Linked DNA regions of Homo sapiens: region 1 is linked to region 2. The links come from fine-mapping of genetic effects on gene expression. A gene starts in region 2. The other region holds a variant in brackets. All regions are shown on one strand. Distances are between the middles of the regions.

The links.
Region 1: its variant is fine-mapped to the expression of SPRTN in activated naive CD4 T cells (Schmiedel 2018, PIP 0.95).

The regions. Positions count from the first base shown.
Region 1 is chr1:231,267,438-231,278,520 of GRCh38, forward strand. It overlaps GNPAT (glyceronephosphate O-acyltransferase), which reads left to right. Exons shown (of 16, transcript NM_014236.4): 9 at 243-466; 10 at 3,321-3,563; 11 at 4,875-4,954; 12 at 6,485-6,625; 13 at 7,784-7,883; 14 at 7,968-8,061; 15 at 8,698-8,759; 16 at 10,062-10,536. The coding sequence ends at 10,105. Among named protein-coding and RNA genes, the nearest start is that of GNPAT, 32 kb to the left of the region's middle. The variant A/G (reference allele first, on the strand shown) is at 4,908.
Region 2 is chr1:231,333,432-231,344,214 of GRCh38, forward strand. It overlaps SPRTN (SprT-like N-terminal domain), which reads left to right and starts at 4,862. Exons shown (of 5, transcript NM_032018.7): 1 at 4,862-5,173; 2 at 6,338-6,437. The coding sequence starts at 4,953. It overlaps EXOC8 (exocyst complex component 8), which reads right to left and starts at 4,421. Exons shown (of 1, transcript NM_175876.5): 1 at 1-4,421. The coding sequence starts at 4,314. The coding sequence ends at 2,137. RefSeq lists enhancers at 3,723-4,598, 4,146-4,195, 4,236-4,295, 4,599-5,473, 4,876-5,075 and 1 more and silencers at 3,856-4,025, 6,097-6,146.

The DNA of each region.
Region 1 (11,083 bases), 66 kb before region 2:
GAACCAGGAATAATAGGACCCTGGACCCCTTCAGTATTTTTACCATCTCTCAAGAGGATATTCCAGAAATGTATGGTCAGATTACACTATAGTAAAGCAAAGGAATACTGTTTGCACCTGACCTGAGAGAATTCAGTTGGCACAAAGTATGAGAAGCCTTCTAAAACGTCTAGAGTCTTTTTCCATCCCCATTTGTCTAAGTAACAGAACTGTAATTTGTTGCTCTGTGCTCTTCCTTTTAGATACATTCCTCAGAAACAGTCTGAGGACATGCATGCCTTTGTCACTGAAGTTGCCTACAAAATGGAGCTTCTGCAAATTGAAAACATGGTTTTGAGCCCCTGGACCCTAATAGTTGCTGTTCTGCTTCAGAACCGGCCATCCATGGACTTTGATGCTCTGGTGGAAAAGACTTTATGGCTAAAAGGCTTAACCCAGGCATTTGGAGGGTTTCTCATTTGGCCTGGTATGTAGGTAGGACATATGTGTTGAGAATGCTTGCTTAATTTGGAAGAGTTAAAACCTGGACCTGAAAAATCTATAGAGGACTTGAGCAAAGGATTGCTCAGAAAGAGAAAGGACAGGCCGGGCGCGGTGGTTCACACCTGTAATCCCAGCACTTTGGGAGGCCAAGGCAGGTGGATCACGAGGTCAGGAGATTGAGACCATCCTGGCTAACGCGGTGAAACCCCGTCTCTACTAAAAAATAGAAAAAATTAACCAGGCGTGGTGGTAGGCGCCTGTAGTCCCAGCTACTCGGGAGGCTGAGGCAGGAGAATGGCATGAACCCAGGAGGCGGAGCTTGCAGTGAGCCGAGATTGTGCCACTGCACTCCAGCTAGGCAACAGAGCGAGACTCTGTCTCAAAAAAGAAAGAAAAAGAGAAAGGACACCAAATCTGTTTTTATCACTATAGGACACAGTGAACACAGCACGTTGATTATTTGAGAATAATTGTTTACATGTCATTTCCCACTACGAGACTCTGAATATCTTGAGGACTAGAATACCATTTCCTTGGCACCTAGTACGGTGGAAAATAAAGTCATGAATCCTAGCCAGGCATGGTGGTACACACCTATAATCCCAGCTACTTGGGAGGCTGAGGTGGGAGGATCACTTGAGCCCAGGAGTTCGAGACCAGCCTCAGTAACATAGTGAGACCCCATCTCCAAAAAAAAAAAAAAAAGGCCGGGCGTGGTGGCTCACACCTGTAATCCCAGCACTTTGGGAGGCTGAGGCGGGCGGATCACGAGGTCAGCAGTTCCAGACCAGCCTGACCAACATGGTGAAACTCCGTCTCTACTAAAAACACAAAAATTAGCCGGGCATGGTGGCGTGCACCTGTAATCCCAGCTACTCGGGAGGCTGAGGCAGGAAAATTGCTTGAACCTGGGAGGCAGAGATTGCAGTGAGCCAAGATTGCGCCACTGCACTCCAGCCTGGGTGATAGAGCGAGATTCCGTCTCAAAAAAAAAAAAAAATTGTACAGGCTACAGTTGGAAATGCGTTTTTTTTTAAAGACCAGATAATTATTTGAAGTCAAGTACCTACTGTTCTTTGATCAACCCAATACTGAATACCTCCTCTGTGCTGGGTACTACCAGGGATATGAAGATGAACAAGATGCCATCCCCATCCTGGACGTTCCCCTGGGTTGCAGAGGGCAGGGTGGGTGGGTAATGTGTAAACAAGTTGTGAGGGTTCAGTGAACAGAGACAAGGAGCAACATGCATGCTGCAGAGGGTTCCTGAGAGTGCTGCAGAGGAAAGGGACCATACTCAGGAAGACTTCACAGAAGCGACTTTTGAACCCTTCAGGAAGACCAGGAGAGGATCCTCGCCAAGGCAGGGATGAGGAATGCAAGATGGGAGGCTTGGGCCCCAGAGATTCATCAGTGATATTAAAGTGTTGGCCCAGATGGGGTGGTGGGTAGATGGAAAATAAAGATGGACCTCCCCGCCTCCTCCCCACCATCCACCATCAGAAGACTGGAGGTATAGAAACAAGTTAGGAGGCTGCTCTGTCCCAATGAGAAATGCAGGATGCCTGAGATGCCTGAGCCGCAGCAGTGGAGGCACTCAGGGCACAGCCAAGAGATGAGGAGGATTTACTGACAAAAATGCCAGTCACCAAGAGAGAGACAAATCAGACACCTGTTCTCAGTGCTGTGATGGGCTGGGTCTGGTAGGAGGCAAAGGATGTGTTAATTATGATACAAGTAGCAAGTGTTGGATGTCATGAGAAATAGCTAAAAGGGCTCAAACCCATCATTGTTTGGCCCAGGAACATATGAAAACATAGGTACTTGTTTTTCTAAAGTGTTTTGCTTTTTCAGGATGGGATAAATGCCATAACTAATCCATAACTAAGAGTATCTGTTCAGTGTCACTACAGTTCTGTTCCTTTTTTCTTTTTTTATGCAGATTACCCCACATTCCTAAGCATGTTCATATCTCAAGCTTTTTATGATCATTTCACATAAAATATTATTCAATTGAGCAAGCTGAGACAAGGCAAGTTGTTCAAGAATGAATGTGATCAAGTCCAGGAGGAAGCCATACCTCTCACTTGTCCCTGCCTTGAAGCAGTAGCAGAACTTGCCACCCAACTTGAGCAGTGTGCCACTGCCAGCCAGCTCTTTGGCTCAGGTTAACTGCAGAATAATTTTCCGTGCTGAGAATATTTGTTAAATATCACCATCTCTTCATTATGCTTCTGTAATTCTACCTGCCTGGCAGCTGTCTGCAGGCCAATATGTCAGGTGATAAGCTACCAACTGCCATGGAGCTGCCCCTTTAGTTATCTTTGATTTGGGGAAAACTGCAAAGTGATATTTTTACCATTTTAGTATGGGTCTAAGCAAGGGGTGTGTGTGCATGTGTGTGTGTGTTGTATGTTTTAATGTATTCATACACTAATCATGGGCCTTTTTCTTAGTATTCTTACATTCCCGTGCATGTGACTTTCCAGTTATGTAACTTGCTGTTAGAAAACTTTAGATTCCCTTGGTTCCTGAAGTACACAGAAGTGGTGTTCATTTTCAGAGTAGAAACTGATGTGCCTTTCAGAATGGCTGACAAATTTTGGGGGTAAGAAAGTATGTTACATGTCCTTAGAGAGAGAGAAAGAATTGATTTATGAAATAGTACTTTTAAATTTTTCTTCAGATTTGGTATCATTACCGTAATTGGTAGACAGTAAAACCTGTCACTTGAAAATGAGCATCTGTCACGTTACCATTAATAACGTTAACGTACGCTAGGCCTAAGACTCCCTGCAGTGACCCATCTTGTTTGAATGAATTGTCTTTGTGTGTAGATAATAAACCTGCTGAAGAAGTTGTCCCGGCCAGCATTCTTCTGCATTCCAACATTGCCAGCCTTGTCAAAGACCAGGTGATTCTGAAAGTGGACTCCGGAGACTCGGAAGTGGTCGATGGGCTTATGCTCCAGCACATCACTCTCCTCATGTGCTCAGCTTATAGGAACCAGCTGCTCAACATTTTTGTGCGCCCATCCTTAGTAGCAGTAGCATTGCAGATGACACCAGGGTTCAGGAAAGGTAATTTTCAGGAATGCAATCTTGACTTTTAGAAGAGGTCTGGCCATTCCATTCCATTTAGGGAGCCACATTTGAAGCCTTGTAATGTTCAGCCTCACGCCGGTGAAGAGCAGGCCTATCACTGAGAAAAAGTTAGCTTTGTTCCCCAAATACTTGTTCATCTGCTTCGAATTTTGGAATTGGGAGGACCTGGAAATAATCTAAACCTTTCCTTCTATAAATATGGAAAATGAGGCCTAGAAAGTTGCATAATTACTGAGAGAAGGATCTGGCATTTGAGTACAGTTCTCCACTTCCTGGTCTGCGGCACTGTTTTGGCTGTGCCAGCTCCCTGATCCAGCAAAGGCAGGTGGGCAGATGAGCAGTCAGCAGTCGATGAGTACTCCCGAGATGCATGGTCTTGTTCTAATTGTATCAGGAGTATAAAAATGAGTACAGTACACGTCATGTTCACAGGAGCCTGTAGTCAAGGCCAGGGGGTTCTGTCAAGGCCCTATGTTAGAATTACTAGGGGAGTGAGCCCCACCCCAAAGTTTCTTCAGTTGACCTGGGGTATGGGCCAGCCATTGGTGTTTGGTTTTGGTTTTGGTTTTGGCTTTTCAAAGCTCCACAGTGATTCTAAGGAAAAGTGCTACAGATATAATAAAGATACCAGGAAATATGAATATAGAGGGAAATTAAGAAATCAGTACCTTTCCTTCCCTACTAGGGAGCCATGGGGTAGGGAAAAATGAAGCGTCCTGGCCTCTAAGGACTGTGATGTCTCGCTGAGTAGAAGCCTGGTTGTAGGTTAGAGTCAATCATTTAAAAACTATGCTAGGGCCGGGCGCAGTGGCTCACGCCTGTAATCCCAGCACTTTGGTAGGCCGTGGTAGGAGGATCACGATGTCAGGAGTTCGAGTCCAGCCTGACCAACATGGTGAAACCCTGTCTCTATTAAAATACAAAAATTAGCTGGGCATGGCGGCGAGTGCCTGTAATCCCAGCTACTTGGGAGGCTGAGGCTGGAGAATCGCTTGACCCCAGGAGGCGGAGGTTGCAGTGAGCCAAGATTGCACCATTGCACTCCAGCCTGGGTGACAGAGCGAGACTCCATCTCAAAAAACAAAAAACAAACTATGCTAGACCGTAGTTTGCTCTGTGGGTAAGATTTGGGTTTAATTTAGCTTCCCTCAGGGGACTTAATTCTTGTCCCTGTTACATGAATAAAATATGCCTTTGAAATACATTTTGTGATAGTAAGGACTTCCTGGTACTCCCTTAAAGTTTAAAGGGCAATGTTGTAATTTTACATGATGCATTTATTTCCAGAGGATGTCTACAGTTGCTTTCGCTTCCTACGTG[A/G]TGTTTTTGCAGATGAGTTCATCTTCCTTCCAGGAAACACACTAAAGGTAAAGTGCTTACAACAAAGAGCAAGTATGTTTGCAGTGTGAGTTCTAGAAATGTTAGGGGTGAATTCACAGATGTGTCTCAGGCAGTGTGCCATCCCTTTCTTCAAGGCAAAGTGGGGCAGACTTCAAGAGAAACTGGGGCGCTCACAGTTCAGCAGACTCTAGTTTGATTCTTGATCAAGTTTAATTAATAACTTAGGGATTATATGGTGAGAGGAGAGTCATTCTTTGAACTATCAGTGTGGCCATTACAACTAAACTAACTTTATTTTAGTAAACGTTTAAAAATCAGCACACAGCCGGGCGCAGTGGCTCATGCCTGTAATCCCAGCACTTTGGGAGGCCGAGGCAGGCGGATCACGAGGTCAAGAGATCGAGACCATCCTGGCCAACATGGTGAAACCCCGTCTGTACTAAAAATACAAAAATTAGCTGGGCGTGGTGGCGCATGCCTGTAGTCCCAGCTACTCAGGAGGCTGAGGCTGAGGCAGGAGAATCACTTGAACCCGGGAGGTGGAGGTTGCTGTGAGCCAAGATTGTGCCACTGCACTCCAGCCTGGTGACAAGAGGAAGACTCCATCTCAAAAAAAAAGAAACCAAACACAACAAAATCAGCACACATTTTCCTGTTAGCAAGTTGTTAGAATGAGTCACCCAGGCAAGTGCCTTTTACTTTGAGAGTAGTGAGTGCTGGTCCTGCCTGGTCTAGACAGCTGAGGGGTCATCAGGCTCGCAGAGCTGGACTGCTGCTGGGTTGAAGTGGGAAGTGACAGTAGATGAGAGGCATGTTAGGTGTTTGTGTGCTTTAAGGATAAGAGGTTTGATTCTGTAGGGAGTGGAACAGGAGTGTTGGAAACTTTTTTTTTTTTTTTTTTTTTGAGGTGGAGTCTGGCTCTGTCGCTCAGGCTAGAGTGCAGTGGCGCAATCTCAGCTCACTGCAAGCTCTGCCTCCCGGGTTCACTCCATTCTCCTGCCTCAGCCTCCCAAGTAGCAGGGACTACAGGCGCCCACCACTACGCCCGGCTAATTTTTTATATTTTTAGTAGAGACGGGGTTTCACTGTGTTAGCCAGGATGGTCTCGATCTCCTGACTTCATGATCCGCCCGCCTCAGCCTCTCAAAGTGCTGGGATTACAGGCGTGAGCCACCGCGCCCAGCCAGAAATTTTTTAACCATAGCATAATTCTAAGTATTTTTAGGACTTGCTGTATGTATTTCCTATTTAAATTAAGGAGTGGTTCTGCAAAGTAAAAGAAAATCCATCACCCAGGTTGTGATTTGTAAGGCTCAGAAATGTTGTGTTTGAAAACATTTTGAATGTAGAGCAGATGCTTCTCTGGCTACTATCTCACAACCAGAATTGTTCTGGAGGTTGGGGAAATAGCTGGTATTCTGTTGTCTGAGGGCATGTGGCTGCATATATTCAGATAGGCAGTGTATCCATTAACCTAGATGAGGGGGTACATGTATTCAGATGGGCACTATACCCATTAACCTAGATGAACATTATGGCTTCCTCTTCCCTTCTAGGACTTTGAAGAAGGCTGTTACCTGCTTTGTAAAAGTGAAGCCATACAAGTGACTACGAAAGACATCCTAGTTACAGAGAAAGGAAATACTGTGTTAGAATTTTTAGTAGGACTCTTTAAACCTTTTGTGGAAAGCTATCAGGTATGTAAATTTGGCAAGTTCTCCTTCATGCCCCCCATATCAAATATAATAAGACATTCTCACCCTGTGCTTATTTCCAGTCTGAAGGGCAGGTATCTTCCCCAGGCAAATGGAAGAAGGAGAGAGAGTGACTAATACGATCAGTGATTTCACCTCACCAGTGAGACCTTGCTCCCCGCATTCAGGAGGAAGCTTGGTTCATTACAGACCCAAGAGGACAACAGCTTAGTGATGCCATGGTCACAGTATTCACAGGACCACAGTTACACCCACGCATCATCTGTCATACTGTGTCTCATGTCTTAATGAGGCCTTCATGTCAGTCAATATGTAACCTCGAGGTTTGATATATATCAGGCACTCAGTAAAGGCAAGACTTGAGTGATACATAAAGTCAGTTACAGATTACCAGATGTTTATGTTGGAAAGAAAAAGTTCAAGTGCAAGTTCTGAAAGCGTTTGTCAGAGCTCTTGGGAGTAGTTAGAGAGATGGGATGGTATGTTGCCCAGCAGGAATTGTGGCAGGACTCAACGGGAGAGAAAGAGTCTGAAACATAAACTGTAGGAAGGACTTCCACATGCTTGAGAGAAGAGGATGCTGTGACTCGGCTCTGTTCATATAATACATGCACTGGCTCTGGGCACCTGGACCCACTTCCTGGTGCTTGTGGTCCGTGAAATAACTCATTCAGCCTCCTTGCACAAAGTCTAGCACTTACTGAGCATTTGATAAATGCTAGTTCTACCCTTAATCACTGTTCTACAGTAGAAATCATCAAGTATTTTAGGGCATGGTACTTTCTTAGGTGTATTTAGAGAAAAAAAGCAAAGTTATTAAAATCTGACCCCTCTCTTCCCAAGTAGCATAAGAGATACGAAGCTGATGGTAATTAACTTGTACCCCTTGAAGTGAGAAATTATACTTTAATAAATGTCATTATTATTTTAAATCTTTTTCTAATTGTAAAATGTAAACTCAAAGGAGATGCCCTAAAAATTCTTTGGTTTTTCTGGGCTCATTCCTTGGAGGGTCTTTATGCTGCTCTCTTGTGATATATCCTTCTCTTAAGAGGGGCAATGTAAAGTTATTTACTATTCTGTTGAACTTGGCTATCCTTTTTCTCTTTCTGTTCCCCTCATCCTTCCTCTTAAAATCAGATAATTTGCAAGTACCTTTTGAGTGAAGAAGAGGACCACTTCAGTGAGGAACAGTACTTGGCTGCAGTCAGAAAATTCACAAGTCAGCTTCTCGATCAAGGTCAGTCACTGCTCTGTGGGTGCTGATTTCTTTTAGTTGAGAATAGAAACTGGTCAACTAACTCTTCCTCACCCCCAATTTTAGGTACCTCTCAATGTTATGATGTATTATCTTCTGATGTGCAGAAAAACGCCTTAGCAGCCTGTGTGAGGCTCGGAGTAGTGGAGAAGAAGAAGATGTAAGTACTGTACAAGATCCCATGAGTGCTCAAGGAACAAGGAAATGAATGACATTTGAGCTCAAAATCCAGAGAGACATAGAAATGGATGATCTAGGAAATGCTATATTCTACTTTCCTTATCCATCCTCTAATTAGTTAAGTCAGTGTGAGTTATCCTGAAAATTGTATGTGGTTATGAATAGAAATGCAACTGAAGCAAAGAAAGGAAGAAATAACTTTAGGCCAATATTTTTGCTTTGACTTAATGTTGAAATTTATAATTACAAGAAAGATTTTCGGGAGTGTAGTGGGCATATGAGTGTAGACACACATAAATACACACATAATACATATATAGATACATACCTGTATATGTATATATAAACATATAGATGTATGTTCTTCTAAGTGGTTGAATTTAACAGTGATAAAGCTTAATAGTAAACTCTGGCAGTCATGTCTCTTATGTGGTCAGAAGAATGAAGCAAGAAGCCAGGAGGTGGGACAGGAGCCTGAGGCCTTTCGACTACTTAGGCCCAGCCTTGAGGAAGGCAATTGAAAAGTAGTCTTACAATAGCTACGTCAGGAACAAAATATAAAAGTTGTCTTTTCCCCAGAGTTTATGTAATAATAAAGCTTATTATTTTCTCCTAGAAATAATAACTGTATATTTAATGTGAATGAACCTGCCACAACCAAATTAGAAGAAATGCTTGGTAAGTGCAGTTTAATAAAATACAAGTTTTCACATTTTGTTGATGAATTAAAATAAGAAAGTATACTGTGGCACCAAATACTTTATCAAAATGATCAGTAAGTAGTAGAGTTCTAACATAAAAGGGAATTACTTATGCAGTCTGGAATTTTCTCAAGGAAGCTAACGAGAAAGCACAAAGAAAATTAACAAAACACAGCAGGCATAAAAGAAGCAGTCTTACACAGTAGAAAGAGTCAGTCCCTAACATGACTGGTCTCAGCCAGAGGCCCAGACCCTTCACATCCTTGCCTCAGAGAGAGTACCTCATCTCCACTCTTTGTTTGATGCTCTCACTGTCTGTCTTGCATTGCTTCTTTCCCAAGTGAGAGATTAGTGTCAGTGTCTCTATCATGTAGACTTTCTGAACTCAGAATTAGGGCTGATAGCACATCCTTGGGAGAATAATCCAACCCTTACTCTTCTCTAGAGCCTATCAGCTATGAAGAAATAGTCTAGTCCAAAAAGAGTCCTTGAGTGTTGTCTTCCTTGACATAAGAGTCCTTGAGTGTTGACATAAACAGAGGTACAATCAGAGGGGGTCAAGAACACTTTTCCTAGCAATGATGCGGCCATTTTAGAAAGGAGGGTGTTAACATTTGGAAAAAATAATCTGCTGATTATATTGAATGGCGTGATGTCCTTGAGTGGATCGTCTTCCAAGTACTGTTTTTGTACCTAATCTTAATTCAGTACCTCGTCAAACCTGCATGGAAGAGCTTTAGATAAATGTCTGTTGGGATTTGCGGAAGACCAGAATGGGGCATACGGAAAAGGAGAATGGATGAAGAAAAGGGTAGAAGGGCAGTGGGGTAGTTGTTGCATATCGGGAAGGCGGAAGTACTAGACCTTGTAGAAAAAAATATGTAGGTCGAAATCCCAGTCTTCTATTTATATCGTGTCTGAAGAGGTGCATATACCTAAAACAACCACAAACACCTCGCCCTGTGAGGGTGACGGAATCAATTACTTAATCACGGAAAGCAGATGTGATGTGAGCGTGAACATACTGGACTGGAGTTCAGAAAACATGACGGGGTTCAACTCCTGGCCCTGGCCCTGTGGCTCTGGCCATGCTGTCACCTCTTGGAGCATCTACCGCTTCCCTTGTGGAGGGGGCTGGCGTCCCCATGGGTACTGGCCAGCCTGTGAAGCTCTGCACAAGTCTCCAGCTTCTCCCCTGGACAGTCGCCCAAGGAACAGCTGTATGAGGAAGGGCAAAATCAGCATCATTTCATGAGCTGCTTCTCTTTTTTCATCTTAGGTTGTAAGACACCAATAGGAAAACCAGCCACTGCAAAACTTTAATAATCAACAAATAGTTATGGAAAATTCGGTCACGTAATTACTCTCATCGAAGGACTCATTACAACAAACAGGGAAGTAAAGGAAGAGACACATCCTCTCATACTCCCTGAGACTCTGAGAACAGTGGACGCAGAGGGAAGAGATGATCATTGGAAGCAATCAGTTTACTCTTCCCCACCACAGTGGTTAAAAGGCGTTTGTATCTGACACTATGTGTGTGTTTTAAAATAAACTTTTGGAAACATGTTTGGAAAAGCAAAGCTCAGCTCATTTCACTAACACTTTTCAGCTTACTATATGTATTAAACTTTTATGTTGACTTTTGAATTAAAGTATGACAACACTGAAAGCTCTGGATATTAAAAGAAAATGAAAAGGGCATATCTACGTTACTTGTAGCTTGCTTTAATTAAAGTTGCCTCAAACAAGTACAAATTTGAAAGAGATATTTAATAAATTAGCTAGCTTACTTTAAATGTTGGCCACCCTAGGGCCTTAATTAACAAAAATGAATTAGTCAAGTATGTGCAACAAAAAGATGCTGTGTGATGCACCATAAATATGTGTAAGAATTCAAGAGAAGAGAAATTTAGAGTAAGTAGGTAACACCAGAAACCTTGGCAAGTAGCCACCTCTGGAAGTGACATGTAAGCTGAGAACTGGATTGAGCAGGAGCCAGCCCCTAGAGTGGCAGGGTTGGAGTGACGGAGGAAGGGACAGTGGAGTGCAGTGTGCCAGGAGAAAATAGTGATCAGGACGTCCTGGGGCAGGTTCCAGAGCTCCCAAAAGATCAACATGGCTGGAACAAGAGTCACAGATAGTGAAATTGAAGACAGAGGCAGGCGCATTAGTCAGTTTCAGGGTGCCATAACACAACAGCTTAAACACAGCTTAGGCAGCTTAAACACAGACCTATTTTCTCACATTTGTGGAGACTGAAAGTCCCAGATCAAGGTACTTGCATAGTAGGTTCATTTT
Region 2 (10,783 bases):
AGCAACCATTTAAATATCTAACTATACACATTCAAGTTTTTACAACTTCATGCCTTATGAGGAATTTTGATTTCAGAAGTATCATTCCACAGACTCAGCATCATATATTTATACATATTTCATACAGTATAGTATTAGAAACTGTAAATGGCACAGAATAATCATAATTATCACAAAATTTTATCAATTTCCAGTGATCTTAAAAAGACAAATTATAACCGCCTTTGCTCAGCTAAGATATCCAGTTATGGTTACAACTTTCGAAAATCCTAAAGTTATGTGAAAAAAATTAGTCAAAGAAAATCTGTAAATCTGATACTTTCCAATATTTTAAATATGCACAGCTAAAGAGAAAATAAAGGGGTTGATCTGGCACATGAATAATTAAGTCAATGAATTTTACAACCCTGAGCCACTTTGGCAACTACTTTAGGTTTCACATAATTTTCACAGTCTTAGTACCACCATTTTCATTCAGATAAAAGAAATGACCTTTTGAAATCATGGGCATCAAATTTGGTGCTTATGGACAAGAATCACAACTAGAAGCTAGAGACAAAATGGATCACAGCAAGCACAGTTTCCCTCAAAGAATAAGGAACGCTATAGAATATACAACAGCGATAGTTTAGAAACCTTGGGAAGCTCACATTTCTTTAGTTATTTTGTTTTACTAAACAATTTGAAGTAAGCATTATATTCATGTTTAAAAACAAAGCAAGGAAAAATAAAAAATGAAACAAAAATGCAGCATGGAACATTTTAGGAGTCACAGAAGGTTCTCTTCTTCCCTTTGTTTTGGGCACATTGTCTCACCTGTTTTCACTTTGTTACAAAAGGAAACAAAACCAAATCTCTGCTCAGAGTGGTCATAGTGAGAACACTGAGATTTGCATATGTTTTTCTACTTTCCCATCCATCTAGACCCTGAAATCTAAATAAATATTTCAGTTAAAACTTTTTTTCCATTTGCATGAAGTCTGGGTCACTATATCTCCTACCCTGAATGGGGGAAGATGGGACAGCTATATCTCATACTGAAGCGGTGGCAGCTAAAACCTGGCAACTGCTGCCAGTGTCCCCAATGTGTCTTGCTTATTATTTTTTAAAATGTGACAAAGACAAAAGCTACAGCTGGAAACTCACACAATTTAGAAATATGTTGAAAACTTTTATTATAGTCCTTAGGATTTCCAAGTAAATGCTCCCAAATCAAGTATTACAAAGCTGCTAATTAATTAGCAACTGAAAATTAGCCATTCAAATTATATTGGAAATATTTGCTGAATTGTTTTTATGAAAGCTTCCTCTTGGATTCTGTAAGGATCAGAGTATCTGAATCCACAAACCAGCTAGTTTCAAGAAAGAATTCTTTTGACTAAAACTTACCTTAAAACCAATTTTCCCAACTCTTTTCCTTTTCCCAAATAGTCCAACGTTTTGAGGAGAAATATATGAGGCAGGTTGTTTTATACGGCACTGTACCCTTTAGGAAACCTAACATTTCAGTGAACTGGGAAACTTCACAACATAAACTCTATGTATTTATAGATATTATGACTGCTGTATAATATATACTGTGGGGAAAAAAAAAAAGAAGAAAGAAAAGACTAGCCTGGGCAACATGGCGAAACCCCATCTCTACAAAAAATACAAAAATTAGCTGGGTATGGTGGTGCCTGCCTGTGGTTCCTGCTACATGGGAGGCTGAGGTGGGAGGACTACCTGGGCCCGGGAGGTCAAGGCTGCAGTGAGTCGAGACTTTGCCACTGCACTCCAGCCTGTGCGACGGGGTGAGACCCTGTCTCAAAAAAAAAAAAGAAAAAAGAAAAGTTTTATCAAAGGATAAAACCGAAATGCTATAGTATATAGTGTGACCATAATTTCAGAAGAAGAGAATTAGCATAATTTAAAAGGATAGCTAGCATACTATACGTTTTAATAATTCCAGTATTTTTGTTACTTGGGCTTAATTTAACTTATTTTCCTCTTTTTGATTTTTGTATTTTTAAGAGGGCACTTTTAATTTTCAAGTTGTGTTTGAAACTATAGAGTATGCTAATACAACTTAATATAAATATAAATAATATATAAGCTCTCTCTCTGCATATATACACATATAAACAGACCCAAGCATTAGACCACTGATGTTGTACTTTCAGGATTCACACGAATAAGTCTAGATGCATTCCTCAGATCTTGGAGTTGCTTGGCAGGTTTCCCCACACCTTCTTCAAACCTTTTCTCCACCACAGGGAGGACTGTTTCATATAAAAAGGATGCATTCTGTCTGATAAAAGCTTTCTTCTCTGGATCCTGCTCACATCGAAGACTATAATCCACATGCTGAACAGCAACCAAAATGATTTCCACCAGGCTCTCCAAAAGTACCATGTGCAGCTCTGGGAAATACAGCTTCAGGGCCTCTTCCAAGAAGCCCATGGTCTGTTTGGTGAAAGCAACCACTGTGTAACTTAGGTTCACCCAGCAGTCATCCCCTGTGTACTGCTCAAAGTTACTTACCCCACAACTTTTCATCTCTTCTTTGAGCTTACCCAGGGCTTCTGGCGTCATCAAGTTCATCCTCCTCCACATCTCTTCAGAGTTGCGATGTTTAGTGGCTTCAATGATGATTTCTTTGTAACTGTGCAAGGCCCCTTGGATGTCTTTCACCAGAAGGGCATGGATGATGAAGGTGAGATCCAGTCCGATATCACCCAGTTGCTGGCAATGCTCCTTAGCCACTTTTACACACTCAGCTGCTGTAGAGAGGCTCTCCTTACTATCAAACACCTGCTTGCTAAAAGCATCCACGAACATGCCCATGGCTGATCTTGCCCAGACCACAAAGGCAGAGTAGCAGCCGCTGTCAGTGCCTGCAAAATCGATCTCAAATTCTCTTGCAGTCTCGAGAAGGCTGGTAAAGAAGACATGGCACAGCTTATGAATATAGAGTAAAGTGGCACCTTCGATGCGAAGCTGACGAATTGCAGTATGAACAGCGGCTGCCCTGTTTCTCAAAAATAGCTCACAGGCCTTCGTGCACTGGCCCAGCCGGATCAGTTGCGAAACTGCTCTGCGAGTAGCCTTCGGACCACCTCTCAGGGAACGATCTGGGGAGAGTTCGAAAACTAGCACCTCAGTGAGCTGTCGAACTCGCTCCTCCACTTTGGCCCTTAGTTCTTTTACAGGAGGTGGGCTAGGTTTATCTTCCAGGTAATGGTTCAATTTATCCAGCAGGTCAACCGCCCCTTCAAAGTCTCTCTGCGCAATGCAGACATCCAGGTCTTCAGGTAACTCCTGGATCCATTCCATGGAGAGGTCCACCTTCTCTTCCTCTACCTCAGGAACAGCTGGTTCTTCTTCTTCGTCATCCTCAAATGGGTTAGTGGCCTTGGAAGTCACTTGGGGTGGCCCTCGAGGGGCCGCTGCCTCCTCCTGCTCCCTTCGCCTTTTCTCACTGAGGGCCCTCTTGGTGTCCTCCAGCACTTCCAGCCACTCTCGTTTGATTTTAGCATTTTCGGCCTGGAAAATACGGCTCTCGGGGAACATAAGCAGCTTGAACATGTCCTTCATGGGCGGGTTGTCCTTGACATTGACTACGGCCAAACCATCTAGGGAATAGAGAGCGTTGTAGCGATACATCCCACGCCGCTGAGGCAGCCAGGTAGCCACCAACAAGCAATCGTTCATGAGAAAGCCGTGCACCCGCTGCAGTTGGGCCATGTGGTCCGCATCGTATTCCACTAGGTCCCCATTGTACACCAAGTACTGTCCCGGCGTCTCCAGCAGATGCCTGCAGCCTTCCACCTTCTCAAGCAGGGTGGTGAGAGTGCGCTGCTTTCCTTCCTCGCCTGGACCGGAGCCGTCGCGGGAGGCACCCCCGGGGGTGGAGAAAAAGCCGGCCTGGCCTCGGAGGTGGTCTCGGCCCCCCGCCCCACCGACTCCCTCCTCCCCTCCAGAGGCGGCGGCGGCTCCGGCGGCAGCAGCGGCAGGCAGCAACGTAAGCGGGATGCTCTCCAGGCTGCTTTTCTGCTCGGTCAGCAAATGGCTGAGCTGGTACATCTCGCTCTCCAGGTAGGAGATCTCGCGGGCCGTCTCTATGAACTGCCGGTAGTTCTGGTAGACGTTGCGCTTCAGGTTCTGCGCCGTCTCCTCCGCCAGCGCCTGGATGCGCTGCCGGTGCTCCTGGAGGTCCCGGTCCCCATCCGACTGCTGCGAGAGCTGCTTCACGTACAGCCGCGCCTCAAAACCCCCTGACTCCAGCTGCCGACGCAGGCGGCTCGCCCCACTGTCCGACATCGCCATCGCCATTTCTCTCCGGGTCTCACGCACTCACTGTCACTATCGGCGCCGCAGCCGCCGCGGCTGTCTAGACCCACCCAAGGCCAACCGAGCTCCTGGGCTGAGGAAGCAGGAATGGGAACGAGACGAGTACGCCTGCGCCGGGTCTGAGCGTCAGACACTGCGCCTGCGCAAGTGGGCCGAGCGCAGACATTGCGCCTGCGCAGCAATGCCATCGGTTAAAGCGCATGCGCAAGATGAGCTATTGCGGAAGTGAGGGGAGGGAGAGGCCGAGAGAAATTTCGGTACTGCGCATGAACCGAGCGTGACGTTGAGGTTTGAAATAACCGGCAAAGAGTAAAGGCTGAAACTAGCTTCCTGAAAGCTTCGTAGGGCCCGAGCCCTGTGAGCCCAGGTTCTGCGCCCACTAGGAGGTGTCATGCTGACTGCTTTTTTTAAAGCCCTAGAATCTTGGCTTCGGCGTTTGGGGTAAGCTCCGTTCTCGTTCTCAAGCGCGTTTCCGCGAACTCTCGCGGGATTGACGGGCCGTCTCGAGAGCCGGCATCTCCTAGGAGCTAGTCCTGGTCCTCGGCTAGGCGGCTTGGGGTCGCGGCGTAACTGGGGAGCCAGCCTGACGCCGGCGGACCCCGCCTGTGATCCTGGCAACGATGGATGATGACTTGATGTTGGCACTGCGGCTTCAGGAGGAGTGGAACTTGCAGGAGGCGGAGCGCGATCATGCCCAGGAGTCCCTGTCGCTAGTGGACGCGTCGTGGGAGTTGGTGGACCCCACACCGGACTTGCAGGCACTGTTTGTTCAGTTTAACGACCAATTCTTCTGGGGCCAGCTGGAGGCCGTCGAGGTGAAGTGGAGCGTGCGAATGACCCTGTGAGTTCCGAGCCCCGCTGGGGAAAGAGGCGGGACTGGCAGCTTTCCTGCAGCCCCCGGCCCTGGTTTTCTCTCCTTTCTCTAGTCCGACGGTCCCAGGGGGCGTTAAATGAGGGGAGTCTGGTTTTGGACCTGGCAATTCCTGCCTCGGCGTGTTTCTGTCTTCCTTACCTTTTCTCCCACTCGAACAATAAGAAAGCTGTGTAGACCACACCGCCACGGTTGGACTCAGGGCCGTAACAAAAAAGAGATTTTTATTTGAATCTCACTTCACTTGAAAATAACAAGTTCCTGATTTGCCTTATGATAGTGCTGTAGGACCCAGAAGGGAGAAGCAACCAAATCTGCACCTAAGAAAGTGCTGAGGACGCAGAGTAACTGCCAAAGGATGTGTGTTCTCCTCCTCTATTCCCGTTAGGAAACCCACTTTAGTTAGCTCGTGTGTTGCATTGGGGATCTTCAGTGATGCTTTTAAAACGATTCTTTTTCTACACGCTAAATTTCAGAAATCCCTATTTGAAATAATAATCTACTCCTGCACGTGAACAGGGTTAAGTTTAAGATACAGTTGTATCCCAGCATGCTTGTTTTTGAGTTGATAGAAAACAACCTACTGTCAAACAAATTAAGATATGATATTAAATTGTGTTTAAAGTACCAATTTCCTTTATACAGGCGTCTGTTATGATTTTGGAGATATGCTACTGGAGATATCTGCTTGTTAATAACACCGAACTGTAACTTGTCGGAAGGAGACTGGGAGTAGCAGAATAGGATTGCCTTTGAGCTGTTGCAGCCTAGCTAGGGCAAGGGGAGCTGCAGTTGGGCCATGTGGTCCGCATCGTATTCCACTAGGTCCCCGTTGTACACCAGGTACGGTCCTGGCGTCTCTAGCAGGTGCCTGCAGCCTTCCACCTTCTCAAGCAGGGTGGTGAGAGCACGCTGCTTTCCTTCCTTGCCCGGCGGGGATCGGAGCCATCGCGGGAGGCGCCCGCGGGGGTTGTAACTAATTAATTAGGTGAAATGCAAGTATCTGCTAACCAAGGGGGGTATACTTTCATGAAAGCCATCTGCCAACTGAGTTAGTGTGAACTGCCCAAGAATGTGTAAGGACTTGGGCATATTTGGCCAATGTAACACATTTTTATGGTGATTGTTTTCTAGGTGTGCTGGGATATGCAGCTATGAAGGGAAGGGTGGAATGTGTTCCATCCGTCTCAGCGAACCCCTTTTGAAGTTGAGGCCAAGAAAGGATCTTGTAGAGGTATTTTTCGTGTAAACTTGCTTCCTAGCGCAGTAATTTACAAATACTTGTCAATGATTTAGACTGCTGTGAATTCGCCTGTATGTATCGTTAAAAAAAGTCACTTTGCCCTCAGTGAAAGCTTGAATTATGGGGCAAACAATAATGAACACCTTATGTTTTTTATAGTGCTTCATAGTAAAAAAAAAAAAAACAAAAAAAAGGCTTCTAGGGGCCGGGCACGCTGGCTCACGCCTGTAATCCCGACACTTTGGGAGGCCGAGGCGGGCGGATCACGAGGTCAGAAGATCAAAAACATCCTAGCCAACACGGTGAAACCCCGTCTCTACAAAAAAAAAAATACAGAAAATTAGCCGGGCGTGGTGGCCGGCGCCTGTAGTCCCAGCTACTCGGGAGGCTGAGGCAGGAGAATGGCATGAACTGAGGAGGCGGAGCTTGCAATGAGCCGAGATCGCGCCACTGCACTCCAGCCTGGGTGACAGAGCAAGACTCTGTCTCAAAAAAATAAAAGCCTTCTAGGTATATTATCTGTTTTGATTTTACAACAGCCCTGTTTATGTTCATGTGTTGCTGTTTTCATTTTTATGAGTAAAGAAATTAAGGTTCAGAGAGGTTAAGTAACTGGCTTAAGTTACTTATTTAGAAACAGAGAAAACAGGATCCACATGTTCCTGTTGAGAAACACAAATTTTGATTCTCCTCAGTTGGGCTGCAACACTGCTGTGCTCTCAGGACACCTAGCTGAGCTGGCAGCACAAACCAGTGTGAGGGCACGCTTCACATTTAGAGCTGGTACTTACTTCTGCTAGCAGAATGGAGCAGTGGGAGCTGAGGCAGGAGGATCTCTTGAACCCGGGAGGCGGAGGTTGCAGTGAGCCGAGACCGTACCATTGCATTCCAGCCTGGGCAACAAGAGCGAAACTCTGTCTCAAAAAAAAAAAGAAAGAATTATCTGTACAAAAGAGCACAGTGGTAGTTTCTGAGCATGGGGTGGGAAGCATGTTAAAACATGCTTGGAGATGAGAGATGCTGTTTTTAAGGATAATAAAAGGCAATGGATTACATAACAGTGTGAATATACTCAACACTGAACTGTACACATAAAAATGGGTAAGTTGGGGAATTTTGTTAATTTTTTTTACCACAGTTTGTTTAAAAAGTAGCTACTAAATGTAAAGTGGTACAGTAGAAATACTTGATTAATGAAAAAGAACAGAGCTCAGATGATAAAGAGAAAGGTAGGTGTAAACAAAATATCAGTTAAATGTAAGTGGACTAAACACTCCATTAAATACATGGAATGGCATGCTAGATTAAAAGAGACATGCTTACAGTAAAGACACACTTATTTTAAGTTTAAAAGGATGAGGAAAAGTAATCATCCAAACACTTAAAAGCAGAAAACTATTGTGGCTATAAGGTTGAGTACTCATTATCCAAAGTGGGACCAGAAGTGTTTCAGATTTTTTTTTTTTTTACTTTGGAATATTTGCATTATACTTACTGGTTGAGCTTCCCTAATCCAAAAGTCCCAAATCTGAAATGGCTTTAGTGAGCATTTCCTTAGAACTTAACCTTTAATCATCTTGTAAGTGCTCAAAAAGTTTTAGATTTTGGAGCATTTCAGATTTTGGATTGTCAAATTAGGGATGTTCAACCAGTATTAGTATCAGACTAAAGACTTCAAGGGAAGAAGTTTTACTAGAGGAAAAGTGGGATATTTTATAATAATAAAATAATCTATTAAGCAACAATACATAATCTCTCCAAAAGTAATAACATAACTTTAAATTTTATGAGGCATAAATTAGCAGAAGCAAAAAGAATATACAATCAGGCTGGGTGCGGTGGCTCACGCCCATAATCCCAGCACTTTGGGAAGCTGAGACAGGCGGATCACTTGAGGCCAGGAGTTTGAGACCAGCCTGACCAACATGGTGAAACCCCGTCTCTACTAAAAATACAAAAATTAGCTGCGTGTGGTGACACAGCCTGTAGTACCAGCTACTCAGGAGGCTGACGCACAAGAATCGCATGAACTCGGGAGGTGGAGGTTACAGTGAGCCGAGATCACACCACAGCACTACAGCCTGGGGTGACAGAGCAAGACCCTGTCTCACTACAGCCTCAACCTCCCAGGCCCAAGCAATCCTCCCGCCTCAGCCTCCCAAAGTGCTGGGATTACAGGTGTCAGCCAAGACACCCAGACTCATACTTGAAGAATGTTAACACAACCTTCTTAGTAACCCAATGAATAAGCGGAAAAAAATAATACACATTTTAAAAAGTTGAACAGCATGATTAACCAAATCAGCCTTAGAAGGAGCCCTAACTGGAAGAGTTGCTTAATGAATATGTATTGGGTAAATGATTACATAAACACATGAGAAAAAAATGTTTTTAAGTAGTGGGTGAGAAGAGAATGGGGAATGTATAATAGTATCAAGTGAGCATTTCCTGTTGGCAGAAAGTTACAAAATGACATTTTCGTCAATGACAGGCCCCATATATAACAGTGGTCCCATAAGATTATAAGACCATATTTTTATTTATTTATTTATTTTTATTTTTTGTTTTTTGAGATGGAGTTTTGCTCTTGTTGCCCAGGCTGGAGTGCAATGATATGATCTCGGCTCACTGCAGCCTCCGCCTCCCTGGTTCAAGGGATCCTCCTACCTCAGCCTCCCAAGTAGCTGCGATTAAAGGTGTGCGCCACCACGCCTGGCTGATTTTTGTATTTTTAGTAGAGGCGGGGTTTCACCATGTTGGCTGGTCTCAAACTCCTGACCCCAGGTGATCCTTCTGCCTCAGCCTCCCAAAGTGAATGGGATTACAGGTATGAGCCACCATGCCCGGCCAGGACTATATTTATTTATTTTTTTTTTGAGATGGAGTCTCGCTCTGTTGCCCAGGCTGGAGTACAGTGGCGCATCTCCACTCACTGCAAGCTCCGCCTCCCGGGTTCAGGCCATTCTCCTGCGTCAGCCTCCCACATAGCTGGGACTACAGGCACCCGCCACCATGCCAGGCCAATTTTTTGTATTTTTTTTACTAGAGACGGGGTTTCATCATGTTAGCCAGGATGGTCTCAATCTCCTGACCTCGTGATCCGCCCGACTCAGCCTCCCAAAGTGCTGGGATTACAGGCGTGAGCCACCACACCTGGCCAAGACTATATTTTTATTGTACCTTTTTTCTTCTTTATATTTAGTTGCACAAATACTTACCATTATGTTGCACTTGCCTACAGCATTCAGTACAGTAACATCCTGTGCAGGTTCGTTGCCTAGGAGCGGCAGGCTATACTCTATAGCCTAGGTATATATACTCTATAGCCTAGGTATATACACTCTATAGCCTAGGTATATATACTCTATAGCCTAGGTATATATACCCTATAGCCTAGGTATATATACTCTATAGCCTAGGTATATATACTCTATAGCCTAGGTGTGTGTATATATATATATATATTACATAGGCTATACCATTTAGGTTTGTGTAAGTACACTCTTAAGATGTTTGCACAATGACAAAATTGCCTAACAATGGATTTTTCAGAACATATCCCTGCCAAGTGAGGCACAACTGTAGTTACCTAAATCATAGAGAAGGGGGTTCAGAAAAGGAACAGACTTTATCTGGTTGAGGAGGTCAAGAAAAGCTTTATAACTGTACATTTTGTTACTACCATCACCACTCCTGCTGCTCACTATTGAGCACCTATTGTGTGTCAGACTTTGGACTAAACGTCGTCTTTACCACAGCCATGCAAAATGAGGATATCCCATTTTAGGGATGAGGAGCCACTTGGAGCCTGTCCCAGGTCTCATGCTGTGATTGTGGGTTTAGGTTCCAGTTTCCCTGACTCTAAGGCTCTTGTTCTGTCCCCTTTACCATTCAACTCATCACTCCTGCGATTAAAACATGGAGAGGTGAGCATTAAAGGACGAATTGTACTTTTGACAAGCAGAGATAGGACAGGAGGCTACTCTTGGCAGAAAGCATGGGAATAATGTGAACAAAAGTGAGTTCAGACAACTGGGGGCATATTTAGGACTAGAGGTAGTTCATTTTAACCCGATAGAACAGTCATGGAAAACAGAGGTATTTTGGGACTGTGTTGTGTATAGATCCTTGAATTAAGACTAAATATGGAAAATGATAGATATTTAAAAAGTTCAGTACCATTTTCAAGATGTTTTTTAATGTTTAATTAAATTGAACCAAAAATCAGGAACCTAAATTTGTTTCTCCTTTATGAGAATAGATCTTTATCATTGCTCTAATTTAGAACATTGAGAAACTTTTGCAGTACCTTTCTTGAATTTGAGTCTTCTTCGTTG